Linked DNA regions of Homo sapiens: regions 2 and 3 are each linked to region 1. Evidence: fine-mapped expression QTL. A gene starts in region 1. Each other region holds a variant in brackets. All regions are shown on one strand. Distances are from middle to middle.

The links. PIP is the estimated chance that this variant, and not a neighbour inherited with it, causes the effect. A credible set is the group of variants that fine-mapping cannot tell apart.
Region 2: its variant is the best candidate, but not a certain one, in a credible set for the expression of TBL1X in subcutaneous fat (GTEx, PIP 0.58).
Region 3: its variant is the best candidate, but not a certain one, in a credible set for the expression of TBL1X in fibroblasts (GTEx, PIP 0.72).

The regions. Positions count from the first base shown.
Region 1 is chrX:9,463,616-9,466,377 of GRCh38, forward strand. It overlaps TBL1X (transducin beta like 1 X-linked), which reads left to right and starts at 1,443. Exons shown (of 18, transcript NM_005647.4): 1 at 1,443-1,832. RefSeq lists enhancers at 43-871, 699-898 and silencers at 1,129-1,708, 1,829-1,968, 2,269-2,418.
Region 2 is chrX:9,503,855-9,506,616 of GRCh38, forward strand. All of the region lies in intron 2 of TBL1X (transducin beta like 1 X-linked), which reads left to right. Among named protein-coding and RNA genes, the nearest start is that of TBL1X, 40 kb to the left of the region's middle. RefSeq lists an enhancer at 1-247. The variant G/A (reference allele first, on the strand shown) is at 1,711.
Region 3 is chrX:9,561,650-9,564,411 of GRCh38, forward strand. All of the region lies in intron 2 of TBL1X (transducin beta like 1 X-linked), which reads left to right. Among named protein-coding and RNA genes, the nearest start is that of TBL1X, 98 kb to the left of the region's middle. The variant C/T (reference allele first, on the strand shown) is at 1,353.

The sequences.
Region 1 (2,762 bases):
GCACGGTGGCTCACGCCTGTAATCCCAGCACTTTGGGAGGCCGAGGCCGGCGGATTGCCTGAGGTCAGGAGTTCAGACCAGTCTGGCCAATATGGTGAAACCCCGTCTCTACTAAAAATACAAAAAAAATTAGCTGGGCGTGGTGGCATGCGCCTGTAATCCCAGCTACTCGGGAGGCTGAGGCAGGGGAATTGCTTGAACCAGGGTGGTGGAGGTTGCAATGAGCCGACAGCGCGCCACTGCACTCCAGCTTGGGCGACAGAGCGAGACTCCTCAGAAAAACAAAAACAAAAACAAAAAAACAAAAACCTCACCTTAGGTCCCCCTCCCCCTACAACCAGAACAACAAATGGTCTAGAGTTCGAGGAAGAGCAAGTGAGGTTATAGTTTAGATTGCTGAGTGTACCGGGCTCTTAGCACGAAGCTCATTATATAGTAAAGGAAGGGGCAAGAATATTTGAAAAATATTCAACGAGGCTGACCCCAGAGGTGCTGGGGAGGGGGAGTGGAGATCTGTTTAACTGAATTAAGGCTGCGAGTGGTTGGGAGTAGCCTACGTGGAGGGGAGGAAGGAGCGCTGGGGACTTAGGTACACCGGGGCCAGGCCGTGTAAGCCATTGCAACATAAAGCACTTTGCAAGGGCCAGAGGGCTGATGCCTGGGGGGTTGGGGTGGGAGTGATGAGGCCCGAGTGCCCAGGTCCCCCCAACCTCCTCAGCCCCCACACCCGAGTTCCTGGCGCCTATGCCTGTGTGTCTGAGTTTGTCCCTAAGCATTTCTGGCTCTTCTTGGGAGGTGTTTTGCAAAGGTCGAGGCTCCGCCGGAACCCCCACTTTTTGAGCTGGGGTAAAGACTACTGGGGTGTCTTCTAAGACGCCGATTTTGAGGGAGATTCACCATCGGGCAGGTGGCAGGGGGTTCTGTTGGGGCAGCCGGGTGGCTTCCTTTTTGGGGTGGGGGAGGGTAACACTTTAGCAGTGATCGAGGTTCCCCTGCCCCCTAGAAACTGAGGGGGTGGCCGAGGTTCCCGTCCCCTCGAGGCAGTCGTGGAAAGGCTGGGTTTGGGATGTGATGGGGGTAGCCCTGGGGTCCTCTCAGTCCCACGGAGGCCACGGGGAAGGGACCGGGACCAGAGCAACTAGGGAGAGGCCCGGGTTCCCCTCACCCACCCTAGGCGTGGGGGAGCGGGGCGGGCTTGGTAGGGACGCTGGTCCCCCGACCGTGGGACAGGGGCTGGGTTGGGACGCGGGTCCCCACTAGGAGCCGCGGGGGAGGGGCAGGGCCGGAGTCCCTACCCTCGTAGGGGAGGGGCTGGTTCGGGACGCGGCTCCCCCGGGGCGCAGGGGCGGGGCCGGGTGGTACGCCGGGTCCCCTCCCACGGCCGTGAGGGAGGGGCCGGCGGCGGGGGCGGACCCCTGGCGGTCCTCCTGGCTGGGGTCCGCGCGCTCGCGGCAGCTCCCCGTGGAGGTCACTGTCCGTGCCAGTCCCTCCCGCTGTCCCGCCCTCTCCCGCTGCCGCCGCCGCCGCCGCCGCGCCCGCCTCAGCGCCCCCACTCCGCGCTTGGGAGCGAGGAGCCGCCAGCGCCCCCGCCCCGCCGCCGCCGCAGCGCCCTCAGGCCGCCATTCGCCACCGAAACTTTCCAGCGCCCGCGCTCTCTCCGGGACTCGGCGGCGGCGGGGCGGGGGCGGCCCGGGGGCGGCGCGCGGCTGCTCCGGGGCGCCGGGCCCTCTTCGGCCGCCGCACGGCCGGGACTCGGAGGCTGCCGGCTGGAGGGAGGTTCGGAGCGCGGCCGGGCGCGCGGCGCCGCCACAAGTTGCGCTGCTCGCGACGAGGTGAGTGCGCAGGGCTCGGCGGGCCGGGCGCGGGGTCCGCAAACTTCTGCGGGGAGGCGGGTCCCGCGCTGACCCTCCAGGGTCCGGCCGGCGGCTCGGGGCGCCCGAACGCTCCACCCGCCCCTGGAACTCCTGTAGGTGCAGGTCGCCAACTGTCCCCGCGGCGCTCGGACTGGGGTGCGGCGCGCTCCCAGGAGCCTGAACAATACCCCGAGGTGGCCGCTCCCCGAAGTGCCGGCGCGCCTTGCGGGGAGAGACGGAGGTCGGCGGGGGGCTCCTTTGTTTTGGGGAGGGGGAAGTGGCCGGTAAGTTTAGGGAAGCGCTCGGCTTTTCCTCCGGTGCCCCTTTGTCTGCCGATTCAGGGGCTTGCTGGGCAAACCTGCGCCACCGCGGGCTCCGGGGACCGGGGTGGAGGGCGGTGGCGGGATTTCCCCGCTGTTGGGGAGAAGAGCCCCATTCATACCCGGGACGCGGGCCGGCCCTCCCGGACCCGGGTGGAAGCGCAGCCTCGCGGAGTGGGGCAAGCGGCGGGCGAGGTGGCGCGGGCCCCGTGTCTGCTCAGTTTCTGACGCGCAGAAACTGTCAAGGAAGTCGGGAGCCCCAGTCCTCCGCCCATCTCCCCGGCCTGAGCGCACGGCTGGGCTGGGGGCACCCTTGGCCCGTCGAGGGTCTGCAGAGCGCCGCCCGGGGAGAGCGCAGACCTGTTGCTGCTCCTGGGCTCTGACGGGGCGGGTGGGGTGGGTCTCGCAGATCCTGGGCCCCGGCCTTGCTATCCAGGGGGACCTTCCCTAACGATGGGACCGGTGCTCGGAGTGGAGTATGGGGAGTGCGCCTTCGGGAGTCGGCGCTGGCCGGATATGTGACAACTGTGGGTCGCTGGAGGCCCGCCTGCGCTGGGATAGGGCCTGGACTTCACGTGCGTCGCCTGTG
Region 2 (2,762 bases), 40 kb after region 1:
CCTCCTGGTAGTTCCAAGGAATCTGGACAGCCCAGATGAGTGGGTTTCCCCCAAGCAAAACACACCCTCTCCACCAAGGGACAGAGTGCTCCATTAAACGGGTCCTGCTCCCTGTGTCACCCAACTGGGTGAGACCCTTCAACAGGGCTTGTCAGATACCCTCTGCAGGAGTGATCCTACTGGCATCAGGTTGGTGCCCCTTGAGGTCAGAGGTCCCAGAAGAAGGAGTAGGCACCCATCTTTGCTGCTCTCCAGCATCCTTAATGACATCTCCAGGCATGGGAGCGAATCAGATGAATAAGGCCTGAAGGTGAACCACCAGCAAACTGCAGCAGCCCTACAGAAGAGGGACTGGACTACTGAAAGAAAAACAAGCAGAAAGTGACAACAACAGCATCAACAACAACAATCAAATAAAAGGTCCCCACAAAAATCTCATCCAAGGGTAGCAGCCTCAAAGACTGAAACTAGACAAACTCATGAAGATGAGAAAGAATGAAAAAATGCTGAAAACCCAAAAGGCCAGAGTACCTCTTCTCCTCCAAATGATTACAACATCTCTCCATCAAGGGCACAGAACTGGACGGAGGATCAGATGGATGAATTGACAGAAGTAGGCTTCAGAAGATGGGTTATAAAAAACTACAATGAGCTAAAGGAGCATGTTCTAACCTAATTCAAAGAAGCTAAGAACCTTGATAAAAGGTTAGAGGAATTGCTAACTAGAATAACCAGTTTAGAGAGGAACATAAGCAACCTGATGGAGCTGAAAAACACAGCACGAGAACTTTGTGAAGCACACACAAGTATCGTGAAGCATAAACAAGTATCAACAGCTGAATCGACCAAGTAGGAGAAAGGATATCAGAGTTTGAAGACCACCTTACTGAAATAAGACATGCAGACAAGAATAGAGAAAAAAGAATGAACAAAGCCTACCAGAAATATGGGACCTCATAAAAAGACTGAACCTACGATTGAGTGGAGTACCAGAAGGAGGTGGGGAGAATGGAAACAAGCTGGAAAACACACTTCAGGGTATTATCCAGGAGAACTTCCCCAGACTACCAAGACAGGCCAACCTGCAAATTCAGGAAATACTGGGAACACCATTAAGATACTCTATGAGACGATCAACCCCAAGACACATAATCATCAGATTTTCCAAGGTCGAAATGAAGGATAAAACTAAGGGCAGCCAGAGAGAAAGGCTAGGTCACCTACAAAGGGAAGCCCATCAGACTGACAATGGACTTCTCAGCAGAAACTCTACAAGCCAGAAGAGATTGGGGGCCAATATTCAACATTCTTAAAGAAAAGAATTTTCAACCCAGAATTTTATATCTAGCCAAACTAAGCTTTCTATAAAATCCTTTCCAGACAAGCAAATGCTGAGGGATTTTGTTACCACTAGGCCTGCCCTGCAATGTCTCCTGAAAGAAGCACTAAATATGGTAAGGAAAAACTGGTACTAGCCACTGCAAAAACACATGAAAATATAAAGACCAATGACACTACAAAGAAACTGCATCAACTAATGTACAAAATAACCAAATAGCATCATGATGACAGGATCAAATTCACACATAACAATATTAACCTTAAATGTAAATGGGCTAAATGCCCCAATTAAAAGACACAGACTAGCAAATTGGATAAGGAGTCAAGACTCATTGGTGTGCTGTATTCAGGAGACCCATCTTACATGCA[G/A]AGACACACACAGGCTCAAAATAAAGGGATGGAGGAAAATTTACCAAGCAAATGGAAAGCAAAGAAAAAAAGCAGGAGTTGCAATCCTAGTCTCTGACAAAACAGACTTTAAACCAGCAAAAATAAAAACAGACAAAGAAGGGCATTACATAATGGTAAAGGGAACAATTCAACAAGAAGAACTAACTATTCTAAATGTATATATATGCACCCAATACAGGAGCACCCAGATTCATAAAATAAGTTCTTAGAGACCTGCAAAGAGACTTAGACTCCCACACAATAATAGGGGGAGACTTTAACACCCCACTGTCAGTATTAGGTCAGTGAGACAGAAAATTAACAAGGATATTCAGGACTCGAACTCAGATCTGGATCAAGTGGACTTAGTAGAAGTCTACAGAACTCTCTACCCCAAATCAACAGAATATACATTCTTCTCAGTGCCACATGGCACTTATTCTAAAATCAACCACACAATTGGAAGTAAAACACTCCTCAGCAAATGGAAAAGAACTGAAATCATGACAGACAGTCTCTCAGACCACAGTGCAATCACATTAGAACTCAGGATTAAGAAACTCATTCAAAACCACATAATTTCGTGGAAATTGAACAACTTGCTCCTGGATGACTCCTGGGTAAATAATGACATTAAGGCAGAAATCTAGTATTTCTTTGAAACCAATGAGAACAAAGAGATAATGTACCAGAATTTCTGGGACACAGCTAAAGCAGTGTTAATAGGGAAATTTTGCACTAAATGCCCACATCAGAAAGCTAAAAAGATCTCAAATCAGCACCCTAACATCACAATTAAAAGAGCTAGAGAGGCAAGAGCAAACTAATCCAAAAGCTGGCGGAAGGTAAGAAATAACTAATATCAGAGAAGAATCGAAGGCGATAGAGACGCAAAAAAGCCCTCCAAAAAATCATTGAATCCAGGAGCTGGTTTTTTGAAAAAATTAACAAAATAGATAGACTGCTAGCTAGACTAATAGAGAAGAATCAAATAGACAATAAAAAATGATAAAGGGGATATTACCACTGAC
Region 3 (2,762 bases), 98 kb after region 1:
AGAAATATACGTGTTCATATGTATGTGTGCACGTATGTGTTTGTGCATGTGTATGCTTTAGGACCCAGTTCTTGGATTAGCTGATTATTTTTTTCCCTCTCTATAGACATTGGTGACCTAGGTTTTCAGATACTTATGTAAGTGAATAGTTGAATTTGTTTGAGCATATTTAATTGCTTTCCTGAAGGGATTTGCTGGCTGTTTTGTTAAATGAAATTGAAGACAGTACTGTTGACCTTTCCAGGTGAGGAGGGAGTCAGAAGTGTTTTGCAAATGATGGAAACTGAAACGTGAGTACCAGGACCATATGATGTTCAGAAACTTTTATCATAACTACAGTGAATAAATAAAGTGCTTGACAATTAGATTTAAAATTAAGCTTCATCCTCATTGCAAAATGTGGAGACAGTGCTTTGGGACATGAGGAAGAGATTAATTAGGATTCTTTTCTACCTCAAGATGCGCTATGTCATCTCTGAACAAAAAACTGATTGGTATTACGTGAGGATTATCTTCATAAAGTTCAGAGTTGTATCTACGGGGACAGATTTGAATTGCTGTTAATTGACAATTTGCTGAATTGGAAAGATCATATTACCTTAATACTTTAATGTATCATCTTTAAATGTGATTCTTTTTCTTTCTCTCACTAAAGATTAGTTTCATGCCACTAAATAAAATTTAATCTTTTGCTGTAATTTAAATAATAATAAGTGCTTACAAACATATTATGCAGCTGATAGCTTGTTAAAATTTCCTGTGGGCTTGTTTTTTGTTTAGAAGTACTGATTTTGCCAGTTGTACAAGCATGAAATATTGTTTATCAAGCCTCATAAGACATTAAAGAGGAAATCAAGTTTGTGTGACTTTAATGTCTCTTTTTCTCCTTATTTCAGTGGCTCATACTTTTACCCTGAACTTGTAAAATCTACAAGCTTAATAAGATTCCATATTTTATAGGAACTAATGGATATTCAATGACTTGCCTGAAGAGTAGACTAAGAAAATGTATTTCTCCATGAATCTTTACATAGAAAAATGAAAGATTTTTCCTGAATATTTATTTCTCAATATATACAGCATTAATATGTCTGTTTTTCTTCAAAGCAGAAAAAAAAAAAATCAGTGATTGCCTTTGGGTTTTGATCTTGCTCTGTATTTGTTTTAAGTACACACCTATTACATGCCCACTGTATTCTAGGCACTAAGCTCTAATGAAAAGTGGTTTCCAGTCATTCGAATGGAACAGGAGGCTCATGTACTTTGAAGTGGGTATACAGAACTTTTGCACTTTGGTTTTATTCTACTTTCTGTCTATGTCCTTGGCACTAGAATGCTTGGACGACAGTTTG[C/T]TATATCTGTGGTATTTATGGAATGAGTGAAACATGCAAGGAGAATGCCCTGGCTGCCGTTCTGGCTTCTGCCCTACCCAGAGCATCCAGTATACAGAAGCAGCGTTTCTTACCACAGCTTGCGGAAAGACACGGGGAGTAGTCGGCTTGCCATATAAGGAAGTTGCCTTCAGTGGCCTTGTTCATTTTAGGTGTTTTTTAATACTTGCTTCTCTTATAATACATGTTACTGTTCCGTGAGGAACCTCAGCAGCTCCCCTAAGGGGAAAAAAGGAGGAGTACTTGAAGGAGTACTGTTTATACTTCAGGGGCAATAAAATCCATGTTTATGCACAAAGGGACCTTTCCACTTGTGTGATAACCATTCTACAAGGCCCTTGAGTTCCTGTGAGGAAGGAAGGACGCCATAAGGAATGAAATCACAGAACCTTATTATGAAAATAGTAATGGTGGGATTTGGAAATTATACTCAATTTTTTCTTCTGAAAACAAATTGAATACCACCTGAGAGTTGGTGCTAAAGGCCCTGATTTTCGTATTTTAAAAAATTTTTGGCATAGTCTTTGGATTTGTGCTGTCCTAATATGGTAGCCACCAGCTGTACATGAGTATTTAAGCTTAACTAAGATTAAGTAAAATGTAAAATTCAGTTTGTCTCACACTAGCCACATTTTGAGTGCTCAGTAGCCACATGTGGCCAGTGGATACCTTATTAGACAAGGAAGATGTAGTGCAGAAAGTTTTATTGGACAGAAGAACAATGGTTATTCAGATATTTCCCTATTGGGAATTCCAGGGAAGAAAGGGAAAACTTAAATCTGAAGAAGAAAAATTTTATACCAAGGGACTAGGGGGCAATGCAGAAAAATTAACCACATCAAAACAATTTACTACATCAAAGTTCATTGTCATGACATATTAGAACATTAGCATAAAGGAAGTATCTATGCACTTCCCGGATTTAAAAAAGAGTCACACGAAGGATCTTGGAATCAGAATGACATTGTATTTCTTAACAGCAACACGTGAAGTTAGAAAACAGACTGAACATAGACTTCTTTGAAAATAATTTTCCCTCAGAATTTTGAAGGTGTTCCTCCACTAATTATTAATTAAGGATAGAATAAAGATGTTTGGGCCGGGCGTGGTGGCTCATGCCTGTAATCCCAGCACTTTGGGAGTCTAAGGCAGGTGGATCACTTGAGGTCAGGAGTTCAAGACCAGCCTGGCCAACACGGTGAAACCTCGTCTCTACTGAAAATACTTTCACATGTCACTTCTAGGAAACTTATGGAGAATATGTCCCACCAAAGTGAGGGAGTAAACCAAGAAAGGGGGAGGTTTGGGATCTTGGAAACAGAAAGAGGCAGAAGGAATTCTCAAACAAAGGTGTTTTCAGGGCAGTGGCTC